2 separate regions of the Homo sapiens genome follow, and region 1 is linked to region 2. The links come from fine-mapping of genetic effects on gene expression. Tissue or cell type: esophagus muscle. Region 2 holds a variant in brackets; the other region holds the start of a gene. All regions are shown on one strand. Distances are from middle to middle.

Evidence for each region. PIP is the estimated chance that this variant, and not a neighbour inherited with it, causes the effect. A credible set is the group of variants that fine-mapping cannot tell apart.
Region 1: LYG2 starts here. The variant in region 2 is the best candidate, but not a certain one, in a credible set for the expression of LYG2 in esophagus muscle (GTEx, PIP 0.58).

What each region holds. Positions count from the first base shown.
Region 1 is chr2:99,251,968-99,260,152 of GRCh38, forward strand. LYG2 (lysozyme g2) reads right to left here and starts at 3,699. Exons shown (of 7, transcript NM_175735.4): 1 at 3,636-3,699; 2 at 3,053-3,170; 3 at 2,251-2,318. The coding sequence starts at 2,293.
Region 2 is chr2:99,190,998-99,199,182 of GRCh38, forward strand. It overlaps MRPL30 (mitochondrial ribosomal protein L30), which reads left to right. Exons shown (of 6, transcript NM_145212.4): 4 at 3,754-3,900; 5 at 4,119-4,192; 6 at 4,576-8,185. The coding sequence ends at 4,708. Among named protein-coding and RNA genes, the nearest start is that of MRPL30, 14 kb to the left of the region's middle. The variant T/C (reference allele first, on the strand shown) is at 4,648.

The DNA.
Region 1 (8,185 bases), 61 kb after region 2:
TGTATTTTTAGTAGAGATGGTGTATCACTGTGTTAGCCAGGATGGTCTCAATCTCCTGACCTCTTGATCCGCCTGCCTCGGCCTCCCAAAGTGCAGGGATTACAGGTGTGAGCCACCGTGCCCAGCCCAAAAATTTTTACAGGTGAAATGTTTTTATCTCACTGCAAGCTCCGCCTCCCAAGTTCATGCCATTCTCCTGCCTCAGCCTCCCAAGTAGCTGGGACTACAGGTGCCTGCCACCACACCTGGCTAATTTTTTGTATTTTTAGTAGAGATGGTGTATCACTGTGTTAGCCAGGATGGTCTCAATCTCCTGACCTCTTGATCCGCCTGCCTCGGCCTCCCAAAGTGCAGGGATTACAGGTGTGAGCCACCGTGCCCAGCCCAAAAATTTTTACAGGTGAAATGTTTTTATCTCCCTCCCTTCCTCTCACTCTTTCCCTCTCTCTTCCCTTTTTCCTCTCACTCTCTTACTGTTCGTTCCTCTCACTAGAAGATAAATTTCATTAGGTCAGATACTAGATGTTTTTCTCTGCTATATCCTCCTCAGCACCTGGAACAATGCTTGGCACAAAGTAGACATTTAATAAACATTTGCTGAATGGAAGAATGGATAGTTGGATGGATGAAGGAATGAGACAGAAAGGGATTGTTTAAATTATCTGGATCAAGTGTCCTTATATTGACAGGTTCAGTATCCTTTCACTGGGAGGCAGTCTTTGCCAGGCTCACTGTGTGGCCCACAGACCACAGGCATCAAAGTTACCCAGGAAGCTTATTAAAAATGCTTATCACTGGGCCGGGCGTGGTGGCTCACACCTATAATCCCAGCACTTTGGGAGGCCAAGGCGGACGGATCACGAGGTCAGGAGATCAAGACCATCCTGGGTAACACAGTGAAACCCTGTCTCTACTAAAAATACAAAAAAATTAGCTGGGCATGATGGTGGGCGCCTGTAGTCCCAGCTACTTGGGAGGCTGAGGCAGAAGAATGGTATGAACCCAGGAGGCAGAGCTTGCAGTGAGCTGAGATCGCACCACTGCACTCTCCAGCCTGGGCGACAGAGCAAGACTCTGTCTCAAAAAAAAAAAAAAAAAAAAAGGCTTATCACTGGGCTTTTCACACCAGATCTACTGCACCAAAATCTTGCAGTATAAGGCGAAAGAAGCTGCCTTTTACCCAGCATTCCCAGTTGACTCTTACACATGTTTATGAACCACTGCTTTAAGGGAACTGGAATATGACCATGGACCCTACGCTGCCTGTGTAGGCCTTATAAACACACAAGCCCTTTTTAAATTAAGAGTCACCTTTCAGCTATACACAGCTAATATGGTAGCTCATAATTAATCTACTGGCTATTTAACTCTGCTCTCACCTGGCAATCTAAAAAGAGTAAAAATTTAAAACTATGTTGCCCTGTTTTGACCATAAGTAACTGGAAATTACTTTCGGGTAGCCTTGTTTTTCCAAATTTAGAATTAAACATTTTAGAAACACTTTCCTTTCAGTCACCATTCTATAATTAAAGACAACTTGAACATTGCTCATAATGGCTTTTCATTTTGCTTAGGTCAGAGTTTTCACATTCTCTTATTCAAGATCCCTTACCAACTTACCAACCTATCTTTCCAGCCTTCCCCCCAGAAACCCCCTCGTCTGTCCAGACCACACTGACCCAAAGACTTTTCATTCATTTCTGCCTCTGCTTTTTTACTGAAATCTTTCTTCCCATCCAGCAGGCTCTTCCTTTTTCTTATTAAATCACCAAGCATCCTTCAATTGACATGTCCCCCCCAAAAGCCTTTCACATCTGAGCATTCTAGTTGGATGTGAGCTCTTCCTCCCAAACCTTTCCCAGACTAGTGCTTTTTTCCCACCTATACACATTGAACTCTCATCCACTGCTTGGCATTGATAATTGTCTCTTCATGTGTTTTGCTTCCAAGGCACTGTTCCATATACCTCTCGGTAAGGTATCCAGCCTGATAGGTGCATTGTCAGACAGGAAGTAAGCAGATCAATAAATATTAGATTATTTGAAATTCCCATAGATCCTGTTTTTCACCTGCTTAGCAAGCAGAACACACTGTTAATTATAGAAATAATAGTTGATTAATGGCCAAGCTGGTCAGAATGAGAGCCCACTCTTCCATTACAGGTAATCATTGCTCTTTCTGATTCATGATTGTGCTGGAGGTTTTTGTGGACACCCTGTGAACAATGCTAAATCTCAGCCAGTGACTTACCAATGAGGGCAATTAGTCCCCAAAACACCACGGAGGATAACATGGCGGGGAATCTTATCTTCCAGGACCTGCTCTGATTTGAAATAGAAACTGGTTAATTTTAAAACCTGAAAATTTCCTAAAGAAAAATTTGCTTTGATATTTTAAAAAGTTTAGAGTTATTTCCAATTCACTACTCATTTCCCTGTTTCAAGATAGTATTCTCACAGGCTCAGTACATAGTTTGTTGGCACACTCTCTTTCTTAAGCATAAACTCCTAATCTCACTTCAATCCAATTTCATATTGACATGAGTCATGCGTATCTTACATATGTAACTAAATATACACTCCCATCCCACCTCTAAGCTTGGTAACACCACAATTTTGTTCCCTTTCTTTTTAAAAAAAAAAATACTGATCTTTTCATTCTAGTTATTCACCCTACCCCTGGCTTCAAGGATCAGTTTTGGTCTTTCATTCATTTATTTAGAAATGGGATCTTGCTCTGTCACCCAGGCTGGAGTGCAGTGGCATAATCATAGCTCACTATGGCCTCAAACTCCTGGGCTCAAGCGATCCTCCCACCTCAGCCTCCTGAGTAGCTGGGGCGACATATGCGTGCCACCATGCCTGGGTGTTTCCATTCTTATACCAGGGTCTCCGTAGGGAAAACAAAATAAAACAAAATACCAACAGGAGCATGAGAACGTGACTTAGAAGAGGTTTCCTCTGCTCCATTTCTTCCTCAATCAACTCTATTCTTGGTTTCATTCAAATGGTAGCTTATAAGTTTTACAAGACATAAGAAGGCCAGCACTAACCTTGTTTGCAACCTTACAGAGAAAATCTCCCCTCTCTGTTTGCAAAGGTCTTCTGTACTCAGCAGCAAACTGCACTTCAAGCTTTTACAAAGCGACGGCCTTTGTCCTGTAACATAGGCTTAACAATTGGAGAATCCATTAGTCAGTAGATCACTGCGCACCTGGCTTCAACAGAGTAGACATCAGCGTGGCTCTACTGCTGTGGAGGAAACTTTTAAACACCAGCATGAAGACTCACCTGGCTTTTCTTACCTTCGTCCTGTACCAATGATCATTAGAGGAGCTTTATATATGGTTTAAAACCCTCTCTTTAAACCATTGACCTCATTAGGCCTGGTTATAATAGTACTTAGGACTTAGGTGACCCAATTAATAAGAGGATTTCAAAGGGCTTATTAACCACTATTAATTAATTAACCTAATGAACCCCCAAGTTGCTCAGGAGGCATATTTTGATAGATTGTTTCTAGATATCTAAAATTGTGCCAAACAGCTTCTAAATTTGCGAATAAGAAACAGATAATTCACTTTAAAAGGATAACAGGAAATACTAGCAATTTTTATTCTTGGATTGGTTATTTACCTGAAATATTGGGTCTCCTGCTTTTTGTTCCCATTCCAATGTCATATGATCCCCGTACCAGTATGTCACATGATCTCAAACCACTATGTCACATGATCATGATAGGTGAACTTGGCTCCTTACTCCAATCCCACTTCTGAGAAAAAGGTGCAAGTGTGGCCACCTGCTCTAGGAGATCAATGCAAAACCAGGGAGTAGCAACGTGAGTGCTCATTTGCCCATACTTGCTAAGGATATGGGAAAAAAGATTATAGCCAGGGATGAAAACTTCTTCAAGAAGAGAGTATCTTTCTTCAGGCTTATGTCCAAAGGAAGAGAGGAAGCATATTGTGCAGCCCCAGGAACAGGAAATGGAAGGGACGTTCTTGAAACAGGCAAAGCACATTGCGCTGAGGGGAGGAAGAAGTCTGGTCTGGGTCCTTCCACAAGCGTGTCCAGTTTCTCAGACTGCACACAGTCCTCCCCCACATCCACTGAGTGAAGAAAGGTGGAAGGCAGCTGTACAGGGAACAGGAAGACAAAACCACAGGCAACTTCCCAGCTCCCTGGCAATAAAACCACCTCCACTCCCAGGAGAACATGCCCTCCCCAAGCTGAGGTCTGCACAGTCCACTGGCATTCACTTCTGCCCTGCCTGCCTTCCTGCTTGTAGAACAGACGTCTCTGGCATGGCCTCTAGCCTTCCATCCCTGGAAGAGTGGCAGGGCTGTTCTGAGCCAATGGATGATTCCTACCTGACTCTCAGGAAAGTGACCCATGGAGGGTCTGCTCCACCACCATCAACACTGCAGTCAGGACCACTCTTGAATAAGGGATATTGCAGGAGTCTAACTGCCCTGAGGCAGGCCTTAGAAACCCATAGTCTATGACCCAGCGACATTGTGCCCGTGACCCACTTCACTGCAGGGTGAGTAGAGCCACTTACCTGAGGCTTCCAGGCTAAGTGCAATGAGAAAGCTCAAGAAAGGGAGATTAAGAAGTTACGAATGATAAGTTAGGTAAAAGAGAGTAGGTGGAGGCTGGGGCTCTCCCTACATGCACTGGAAGAAGACATTGTTAATAAAACATTTAAAGCACTGTTGAATGTGAAGAATACTTATCCTTCTGCTCTCAGTTAGTGGGGCTACGAGTCCTTCTAGGTATGAGGTCCTTAATGTCCAGGCTTCTGCAACTCAACCAAAATTGTTTTCAAACTGATGTGGATTGTTCTGTTCACTCAAGCTGTGAGAGAACAATTGAACATTTATTTGACACCCAACATTAGTCAGGTTCCTATGGATATTATATGACTCAATCCTCCACTGGCCCTGTGAGGCAGGTATTATCCCTTATTTTAGAGATGAGGAAACTGTGACTCAGAGAAGCTAAGTAACTTGTCAAAGATGGCACAGTTAGCATGTGACAGAGCCAGGATTTGAATCTAGGCCTGTAAGATTCCAAAATCCATGCTCTTCCACTGTATCGAAGTGCCAGCACGATGGACAAATGCCTCTGCAGAGCAATCATTGCAACAGGTCCAAATCAATCTGGATACAAAGCATTGTCCGTGGTCTGGAAAAATAACACCACTCACAGATTTTTATACCACTATCTGTCAAATGTTTGTAGGTGCTGTTGTAATTTCTAAAATGCAAATTAATATAAGTTAACTAAGTCCAAAGTGGTTTTTTGTCACTTTATATTTTCTCCACCAGTAATAATAATGTAGTTAATACGCACTGACCTTGTATGGTATGACTGGTAGAATAATAGGAAGGGGCATAACCTAAGTTTGTTACATTCTGAAGCCTAACTCTTAACTGCAGTACCCTACTGACCCAGTGGATGGTTAAGTGTGGGTACTATTGTATAATGACCTTAGAAATTTCTTGTCACTAAGAAGAAATGTACTGAATAATTCTCCATCTCTTCCCAGGGATACCAAGAATGACTACATGTAAGTTGTACTGTTATTTCCAGGAGGGGCTTGAAGGGAACTTGGCACCTGTCATAATCTCTATCAGTCCCCAAAATAAAAACACAATCTATATGCAAGCAATTTCTGTGCTATACAAATAAAACTCTATGGCCTGGTCCCCTACCCCTCAAATCAGTTGCCTGCTCCTAAGACTCTTCAGTGCAGCAATTCTCTGGCAGCTTCTGGGGAGTCCTAACAGATTTGGGGTTCCTGGCTTCAGTGGTGGAGACTCCAATCATCCCTAACGACTAAATGGCCTCAGCAATTGGAAAACTTCAATGGGAAAGTTTAAGCAGTACTGTCCTAGTTAGGAGGAGAGGAATGATTATGAAAACTGAGGTACTCTGTATAGCCAGGGAAGTAGATTCTGGTAGGAGTTCCTGGCAAGACTTCTCAATTCATACCACACAAAGACCTGCCCTTGTGCCCTGAGCTACCCTAGGTTAGCACTTTTGGGAGTTAAAGGAATCCAGCACCTCAGGCTCCCTTGGTCCCCTCGCCCTCTGCGTCCCCACCTGCCTCCCTCCCAACACTAGTCTGTGCTAATAGAGACTGGGTTGTCTCCGCCATGTCATTATTTGTGAATCCCAGGCACAGCTTTCCCTTCTCAGGAACAACAGCCAAGGAGGATGACCATAGCCAACTCATTTAACCTCCCTGAGCCTTAATTTTCCTCATCTGTAAAATGGAGATGATAATAATGCCCCATGACTTTGTTTTGAAGACAAAAATAAATTTTATATGTAAAAACATGTTATAAACTACAGTGCTTCATAGAGATGCCAGTTACTATCATGATGGGTTTGCACTCAAGTCCTGATGGCTTAGCTTCTTGTTGATTTATTCATTTGTTTGTTTATCCATGCACTCAGGAAAAATAAACAGCTGAATTATAGGACAGGAAGTAGGAGGTGAAGTCTCTCTCCAGCCATGAAGAAAACTTGGCAGGACAAGCAAGAGCTATTCATTGTCAGGACTCTGTAGCCTGCCTGGTAGGAGTGGAGGAAGGATAAGTTCAGAAACAGCCACACAAGCAGCTGCAGCCCAAGCATCTGTTTCACAGCTCTGAAACCTATAAAATGGGGGAGCTGCCCAAGAATATGTGGCAAAGGTACTTTGGCGCCAATGGCTGGTAAGAAGGCAGAAGGGGAGCCCTTCCATAAAATTTCACTAAAACATTCAACTTAACCCCAGGATATATCAATGTCAAGCTTTAACTGCTGTGTGCTTTTCTTGTCTTGGTTTTAATCTACTATATGATAGGTAAAATGCAGGGTATGCCCTGTTGAAGAAGCCACTTATATGGTTGCATTATTGGTCTTCCAATGTCAAACATTTGACCAACATTTCAGGAAAGAAGATATACAAATGGCCAATAAAGCTCATGAAAAATTGGTAAACATCTTTACACATCAGGGAAATGCAAAATAAAACCAAAATGAGACAGTATTTCACACTCTCTAAAAAGGCTAAAACCAAAGACTAGCTATATCACATATTGGTGAGAATATGAAACAAAACAGAACTCTCATACATTGCTGGTTGGAGTATAAAATGGTATGATTGCTTTGTAGTACTGTTCAGCAGTTTCTAACAAAGTAAATAACTATATGCCTCAGGAATTTTATTTCTAGTTATTTACCCAAGAGCAATGAAAAAAAAAAAAATGTCTCCCAAAAGACTTGTATGAGAATCTTCACAGATTGTAAGTTCTGCAAAGAGAAAAGAAAAAAAAAGAATTTTTACAGTGCTTTATTCATAATAGCTCAAAACTGGAAACACTCCAAAAAATTCATCAACAGAAGAATGGACTAACAGTTGTAGTATAACGATATAATGGAAAAATACACAAGTTAAAAAAAAAATCCAGGAAAAAATTCCAATGAACCTGGGCTGGGTCAGGTGCCCACCTCTGGATCATTCAACCATGTCTAGGAATATATTTGTTTGAAAAAGGGACTCCCTGTGGTTTGGAAAGGAGAAGGGAGAAGTCTGAAACAAAATTTTAAAGTAACGTTTTCATTTTGAAATAGTTTAAATTTCACAAGAAGCTTCAAAAATAGTACCAAGAGTTCTCATGTACCCTTCACCCAGCTTCCCCCAATGGCAATGTCTTACATAACTATAGTACATGTCAAATCCAGAACATTACCATTAGTATTATACAATACTGTAAACTTAGGTACAGACCTTATTTGGATTTCCCCAGTTTGTTTTTACACGCTCTTTTAAAAAAAATATTTATTTATATTTCAGAAGCGTATAGTACTGTGAACGTTTATCCCACAGGTAGATGCAAGTAACCATCACCATAATCAGGATACAGAACTGACCCATCACCATAAAAAGACTGCCTCATGATATCCCCTAACTATGTCTTTCATTGTGCCAAAAGTAAACTTTTTTTTTTTTTTTTTTTTGATGGAGACTCACTGTTGTCAGCCTGGGCTGGAGGGCAGTGGCATGATCTCGGATCACTGCAACTTCCACCTTCCAGGTTCCAGCAATTCTCCTGCCTCAACCTCCTGAGTAGCTGAGATTACAGGTGCCCACCACCACACCTGGCTAATTTTTGTATTTTTTAGTAGAGATG
Region 2 (8,185 bases):
CCCCTGACTATCTTTTTTTTTTTTTTTGGAGACGGAGTCTCGCTCTGTCTCCAGGCTGGAGTGTGGTGGCGTGGTCTCGGCTCACTGCAACCTCCATCTCCCGGGTTCAAGCAATTCTCCTGCCTCAGCCTCCCAAGTAGCTGGGATTACAGGCATGTGCCACCACACCCAGCTAATTTTTGTATTTTTAGTAGAGACAGGGTTTCACCATGCTGGCCAGGATGGTCTTGATCTCCTGACCTCGTGATCCACCCCCCTTGGCCTCCCAAAGTGCTGGAATTACAGGCGTGAGCAACCACGCCTGGCCCCTGCCTATCGTCTGAACTTATTCCTGTATTCTCCTGTATTCTCAACTGGTTTCTAGACATTGCTACTTGGATAACTTATAGGTATTTCAAGTTCATATCCAAAATTCAACTCATCTTACTTTCCCTCCAAACAACCAAATAAAAAAGAGGGTGCGTCTCTTGTATTAGTTATGTCAGTTAATGCTACCATCCTCTATCTAATTTCCCAGACTAAAGACATCTGAATCAAGCTCAGCCTCCCTCTTCTTCACCCAACACAAATCCATCTATATTACTGCCCAGAGTTCCCATATCAGTCCTTTTTCTGTTACAGCTACTGTAGTTCAGGCTCTTAAACCATGGTCATAAGTGCCTCCTAACTGGGTTTCCTTGTATCAGTCTCTATCCCCAGTTGGTTTTATTCTTAGGTAAGAGTTTTCTTTGCAAATCTCATAGAAACATGGTCCTATTGGTTCTAACCTTCATTAACTCTGTATCCCCAGCGGTAATTTCTAAAGGCTCAACATAGTCGCGCATAGTTTAACTTCATCCTCTGCATTACTTTTCGTGCTTTTTTCTATATTAGCCACCCTGAACCACTTGCCTTTCCAAAATATTTTGTGCTCCTTCATACTGTTCCTTTAAATATTCTCACCTTTCTTTAGTGCACCTACCCCTTCCTCTGATCTCCACCATCCTTCTCATCCTAATCTCTTCAAAATCTCTAGAAAAATATAAACAAGCAAAACTCACCAAAAAATACTCTTAATCTTACCCACCCCGAGATAACTGCTGCCAACTCCTTCCACATCCTTCTTTGTTGTATGTTTTATTTTTTTCTTTTAGACTAGTCAAGTGCAGTAATGAGGAGGAAAGAGTAGAATACGGAGTTCAATCTGTGTTGTGTGTTTTAAGATGTGATTCATCTCATATGAATCAATGCTTCTCTAGCTGCTCTCTCTGTTTAGTAATATAATATGAACCTCTCACTGTATACATTTTTTTTTAAGTTCCGGTATACACGTGCAGATTTGTCACATAGGTATATATGTGCCATGGTGGTTTGCTGCACCTATCAACCCGTCATCTAGGTTTTAAGCCCTACATGCATTAGGTGTTTGTCCTAATGGTCTCCCTTTGCCCCCGACTCCCCGTGTGTTCTCATTGCTCAACTCCCACTTATGAGTGAGAACATGCGGTATTTGGTTTTCTGTTCCTGTATTAGTTTGCTGAGGATGATGGCATCCAGCTTCATCCATGTCCCTGCAAAGGACATGACATCATTCCTTTTTATGGCTGCATAGTATTCCATGGTGTATATGTACCACATTTTCTTTATCCAGTCTATCATTGATGGGCATTTGGGTTGGTTCCATGTCTTTGCTATTGTAAGTACTGCTTCAATAAACATACATGTGCATGTGTCTTTATAGTAGAATGATTTATATTCCTTTGGGTATATACCCAGTAATGGGATTGCTGAGTCCAATGGTATTTCTGGTTCTAGATCCTTGAGGAATCACCACACTGTCTTCCACAATGGTTGAACTAATTTACATTCCCACCAATAGTGCAAAACCATAAAAACCTCAGAAGAAAACCTAGGCAATACCATTCAGGACATAGGCATGGGCAAAGCCTTCATGACTAAAACACCAAAAGCAATTGCAACAAAAGCCAAAATTGACAAATGGGATCTAATTAAACTAAAGAGCTTCTGCACAGCAAAAGAAACTCGCATCAGAGTGAGCAGGCAACCTACAGAATGGGAGAAAAATTTTGCAATCTACCCATCTGACAAAGGTCTAATATCCAGAATCTACAAGGAACTTAAATTTACAAGAAAAAAACAAACAATCCCATCAAAAAGTGGGCAAAGGAAATGAACAGACACTTCTCAAAAGAAGATATTTATGTGGCCAAGAAACATATGAAAAAAAGCTCATCATCACTGATCATTAGAGAAATGCAAATCAAAACCACAATGAGATACTACCTCATGCCAGTCAGAGTGACGATTATTAAAAAGTCAAGAAACAATAGATGCTGGCAAGGCTGTGGAGAAATAAGAACGCTTTTACACTGTTTACATTTCTACAAAACTGTTTTTAATCATGAATGATATTCTTTTTTATTAAAATACCATCTTTTTGGGGGTCAATTTTTTTTCTAAATCTGCTTCCCCAGAGCTATGACTCTTGATCTAATGTCTTTGAGACCTTTATATATATTTTATATGAGTCTTAGAAACAGTATTTATAGAATATATCACATATGCACACTCATGTATTTGGTACAGATGATGCACATAACAGCTTACAACACATAATTGTGTGGACATTTCTTTTTGGTTTTTGGCTCAAGAATATATTATGGCCATCATTCAATGTGAAGACCTGCAAAGATAGTAAACCTCATTCATTTTAATGGTAGTATTGTATCCTATAGGATACATCAGAATTTGTGTATTTGCGCCAGGCGTGGTGGTTCACACCTGTAATCCTAGCACTTTGGGAGGCCAAGGCGGGCGGATCACAAGGTCAGGAGTTCGAGACCAGCCTGGCCAACATGGTGAGACCCCCATCTCTACCAAAAATAGAAAAATTAGCTGGGCACGGTGGTGTGCGCCTGTAATCCCAGCTACTCGTGAGGCTGAAGCAAGAGAATCGCTTGAACCTTGGGGGCAGAGGTTGCAGTGAGCCAAGATCGTGCCATTGCACTCCAGCCTGGGCGATAGAGCAAGACTCCATCTCAAAAAAAAAAAAAAAGAATTTGTGTATTTGTATCATTTTACTTAGTTTTATTATTAATCATTTTATTTAGAATGGATGCATCATAATGTAGTTATCATGGTGAGGAACACGGGTTGCCTTTAAACTTTTCAGTGTTACACATAGTGTTAGAATACACATCCTTATTCGGTATATTTTGTATACTTAGAGGAGTGTTTCTGTGGGATAGTTTCTTAGAACCTTTTGATTCTTAGATAATTAATTCAAGTATTAGCTCTGTGGAGCTGTTTCTGATCGCTCATAGGCAGAGTTCATTAGTCATTTGCCTGTATTCTCATAATACTTTGTAGATTCTTTTTATAATACTTATGTTTTATTTTCATTTTTAATTTACATGTTTGTTTTCCCACTTGATAGTCAGCTCTTCACCTGAGAATAGGGAGGGAAGAGGATGCAGCCCAGTGCCCAGCTCATAGCAGTGCTTACAGATTCTCCTGACATTTAAATTATTTAGTGTTGTCTGGTTGCTCCTGCTTTGTTCTACAGGTTAAACTCCATCTATCTGCATAATCAGATTGATAGAAATGTTCAATCTGAGGTTGAGGATTACATGATGATTAAGGATGAGGTAATTATGTAGTTGTGTATGTGTGTGTGTCTTTTAAGAAAAAATGGGAGGTACACAGAAACTGTGTAAGTTGGAAATTTACCATTTATAATTCTTTCCTTTCTAGGTGTTTCAGGCCTCACCTGAAGATCATGAAAAATACGGTGGGGATCCACAGAACCCTCATAAACTGCATATTGTTACCAGAATAAAAAGTACAAGAAGACGTCCATATTGGGAAAAAGATATAATAAAGATGCTTGGATTAGAAAAAGTATGCAATTATTTTAATCATCTTTAGTGTTGTTTACATTGCTTTAAATTTTATACTTTTAAAACTTTGCGGTATACATTTATTATTTATTTTGTATTACTTAGGGTAATTTATTTATAAATTTGGCTTAGAATGAACCTTCAATTTAACATTTTACTGAAACATGGAACTATCTGCTTTTCAGATTGATAACGTTGCTTTGTTGTTGTTGTTCACAGGCACATACCCCTCAAGTTCACAAGAATATCCCTTCAGTGAATGCAAAATTGAAAGTAGTTAAGCATTTGATAAGGTTTGTTGTTTCTTCTCAGCTCTTTTTAAAATGTATTGCCTAGTGTAATTCTAAATGCATTTTTCTTTTTTCGTTAATGTTCTGAAAAAAACTTTTTAAAAAACTAAAATTTTATTTTGTTTTTTTTTAATTGACACATAATAATTGTACATATTTATGGGGTACATAGTGACGTTTCAATATATATAAAGTATAGTGATCCGATCAGGGTAATTGGCATATCCATCATCTCAGACATTTACCATTTCTTCATGTTGGGAACATTCAACATCCTCCTCCTAGCTATTTGAAACTATGTGTTATTGTTAACTGTAGTTATCCTGCGGGGATATAGAACGCTAGAACGTATTCCTCCTATCTAAACGCATTTTCTTGTGTCACAGAATCAAGCCCTTGAAGTTGCCACAAGGACTTCCAGCAGAGGAGAACATGTCTAACACGTGCCTCAAAAGCAC[T/C]GGGGAGTTAGTAGTGCAGTGGCATCTGAAACCTGTGGAGCAGAAAGCACATGAGTCCTAATGCCCCAGCAGCTTCCGATTGGAAAATGCAAATTGTTTTTATTTAAAGATGGTGAGAAAGTGTTTTCATTAAAATATGTTTTCAAAACCATTTTCAGGCCGGGCACGGTGGCTCACCTGTAATCCCAGCACTTTGGGAGGCCAAGGCGGGCAGATCACCTGAGGTCAAGAGTTCGAGACCAGCCTGACCAACATGGAGAAACCCCCATCTCTACTGAAAATACAGAATTAGCCAGGCATGGTGGCACATGCCTGTAACCCAGCTACTCGGGAGGCTGAAGCAGGAGAATCACTTGAACCCGGGAGGCAGAGGTTGCAGTGAGCTGAGATGGTGCCACTGTACTCCAGCCTGGGTGATAGGATGAGACTCCATCTCAGGGGAAAAAAAAAAATTTTTTTTTCACTGACTAAACCTGCTGCAGCTCTCTTTTACTACAGACTTGGAGATTTTAGTTTAATTTGGTTTAATTCTCTGTCCTTTCCCTTTCACTGTTTCACTCCAAAACATGTAAGAATGGCAATGTTTGAACATCTGCGTTTGGGTCTACTGCCACCTTAGCAAGCCTCATTAACCATTTTATAAAAATTGCGTTAGTATTGTTGTTGTTGTTTTTGAGACAGGGTCTTGCTCTGTCACCCAAGCTGGAATACAGTGGCATGATTTCAGTTCACTGCAGCCTCGACCTCCCAGGCTCAAGTGATCCTCCCACCTCAGCCTCCAGAGTAGCTAGGACTACAGGCAGTGTGCCACCACATCCAGCTAATTTTTTAAAGTTTTTTCATAGAGACAGGGACTCACTATGTTGTCCAAGCTGGTCTCAAACTCCTGGGTTCAAGCCATCCTCCCACCTCAGCCTCCCAAAATGCTGGGATTACAGGCATGAGCCACTGTACCCAGCCAAAATTGTTTTCTTTTTTAAGTGAATTCAACAATTTCTGTGAGTGGCTCTTTGCATGAACACTGTGCAAGGTGTTGGAGAAATCCAAAGCTGACCAAAACATGGTCCCCACCTTTTGGAGCTTACAGTCTGTTCTGGGGAACAGAGATTCAGCCAAAGTCAAGAAACACTGGATGCCAGCTAGATTATCTGTTCTGTGCTTTGGTGTCTATAAGTACATATGTGGATATGGGTTCATTTTATCCCTAAACTTAGTACCAAACCAGCATTTAATATCTAATTATAAATCTAATTTGGCCTAAACTTTATTATTGCACACTGCCTGAACAAAACCTATTTGTCTCTATGTAAATTTTTTCCTCATGGAACAAGGGTGTGAAATGAAAATATTTTAGGATTTATTCAAAAACAGACTATTCTGTTTTCAGCTTCAGAATTGTTCTTTGAATCCTAAGGAACCTCTGTCAACAGTTGAGGTTGCTGTTGAAAAGAAAGAAGAAGGAGGCGGAAATCTCTCAGGGAGAATTATTTCCTTTCTTTTCTATTTTAGATACCTGGAGGGGTGGGGAGAAGTAAGAATTGTAAGGGAGGTTCAGTAGTGGGGAATTCTGTGACAGCTGATTGAAGATGATGATGAAGAACCTCTGCATTCTAGTTACCCTTTGCTTCCCTTCACCTCTTGTAAAATTTGGCTTGGCAACAATGACATTGTCATGCTTATTGTCCCAATATCCATCCTGTCGTAGATCTTAATGTTTTTGATCGTTGCGTTAAAGTGGAAGTGCCACCCACAGTGAAACCAGATCCCATTAATAAATAAGCTTAAAGGCAACTGCAGTTTTAATTCCATAGTTATTGAATATCCAGTGTGTGTAAGGCCTGGAGGGGAGCCAAAGGACACTAACTTCTAAGAGCTCCGTCTAGTTGGAGAGAAACCTGTGTGCCACAACATACAGTGTCCTTGCTTATGTGGGGTCGAAGACATCTGTGAAAATAAAAGCAGCCTCTGCTAATTTAGCGCCATCTCTTTTACTGTGCTAATTTTTTTTTCTTTAGAGACAGGGTCTCACTCTGTCGCCCAGCCTGGAGGGCAGTGGTGTGATCGTAGCTCACTATTACCTCCAACTCTTGGGCTCAAGTGATCCTCCCACCTCAGCCTCCTGAGCAGCTAGGACTACAGATACATGCCACCGCTCCCGGCTAGTATTTTTTAAAATTTTTTGTAGAGCCAAGTGTTGCTATGTTGTCCACACTGATCTGGAGCTTCTAATCTCAAATGATTCTCCTGCCTCAGCCTCCCAAAGTGCTGGGAATACAGGTGTGAGCCACCATACCTGGCCTTACTGTACTAATATTAATATTGTGTAAATAGGGGAAAATACCATGGTTAATTTTTACTCAAACAGTAAGAAAGTTTGAGTAACTAATTTTAATCTCAACAGCCCATAGCTAGAAGAGGGGATCTAAATGTTAAGTTGAATATTTAGAAATAAAAGTGTCTACAAGAAGAAAAGTCTTTAGTGAAAATATGGGCATAGGCCAGCAGCATTAGCTTTCTATTGCTGCAGAACAAATTACCACAAACTTAGCTGCTTAAAACAACACACACTTATTGTCTCACAATGTTTGTGGGTCGGAAGTCTAGGCGTGGCTTAGCTGGGTAGTCTGTTTAGGATCTCAGTGCTGGAAAAACGTGTCTGGCCAGGTGCTCATTGTAGCTTTGACAGGGAAGGGATCTGCTCCCAAGCACTCTCAGGTTGTTGGCAGAATTTGTTTCCTTATGGCTGTAGGATTCATGGCAAGTTGCTTCTTCCAAAACCAGCATTGGAGACAGACTAGCAAGATGGGCACTACACTCTTAGATAATCAAATAAATGCAATCATGTGCCTCGTGTCACCTTTTTTGCATTCCATTCATTAAGAACAAGTTGCAGTTCCTACCTACACTCAAGGAAGGGAGGAATTACACAGAAGTGTGACCACAGGAGGCAGGGCTCATGGAGGCCTCCTTAAAGTCCCCCAGCCAAACCTGAAAAGTCAATCCTGGACCTTATCATAGTGGCTGTATAGTTTAGAAGGTTTCTTCAGATTGGCATTCCTTTGCCTCATATCATCACTTCAAAACCCTATAAGGGTTTGTTCCTCGGTCTTGACTTTGTGTCTTTGAGGATTGCTTTGTTTAGTGTCACCTGCCTTCTTTCAGGAGGTTTTGCCTGACATCTGGTGGTGACCGTGGCCACCAAGTCAACCCAAACACTACCTTTAAGGACGACTGCAGTTCTCTTAGGGTCTCCTCAATCTAAAATTGTACCTCTTTCAGGCCAAACACCTATTTTCTTCATTTTTTTTTTCTCATAAGAATGCTAGCTAGTATGCCTATTATCTAACTGGCACAGTTTCACCAAGGACAGTTTGGAACTACACAGGCCATTTTAGGGAGATTTTGACATGAACAAGATTGCTTCTTTGGGAGGTACCTTAAAATGAAAAGCAAAGAAACTTCCATGCGGAGATTGTCTTGTTTTTCTCAAAATGGGATAATTTTGCTTAACATAAGTAGTATCCCTTCCTTCCTTTCC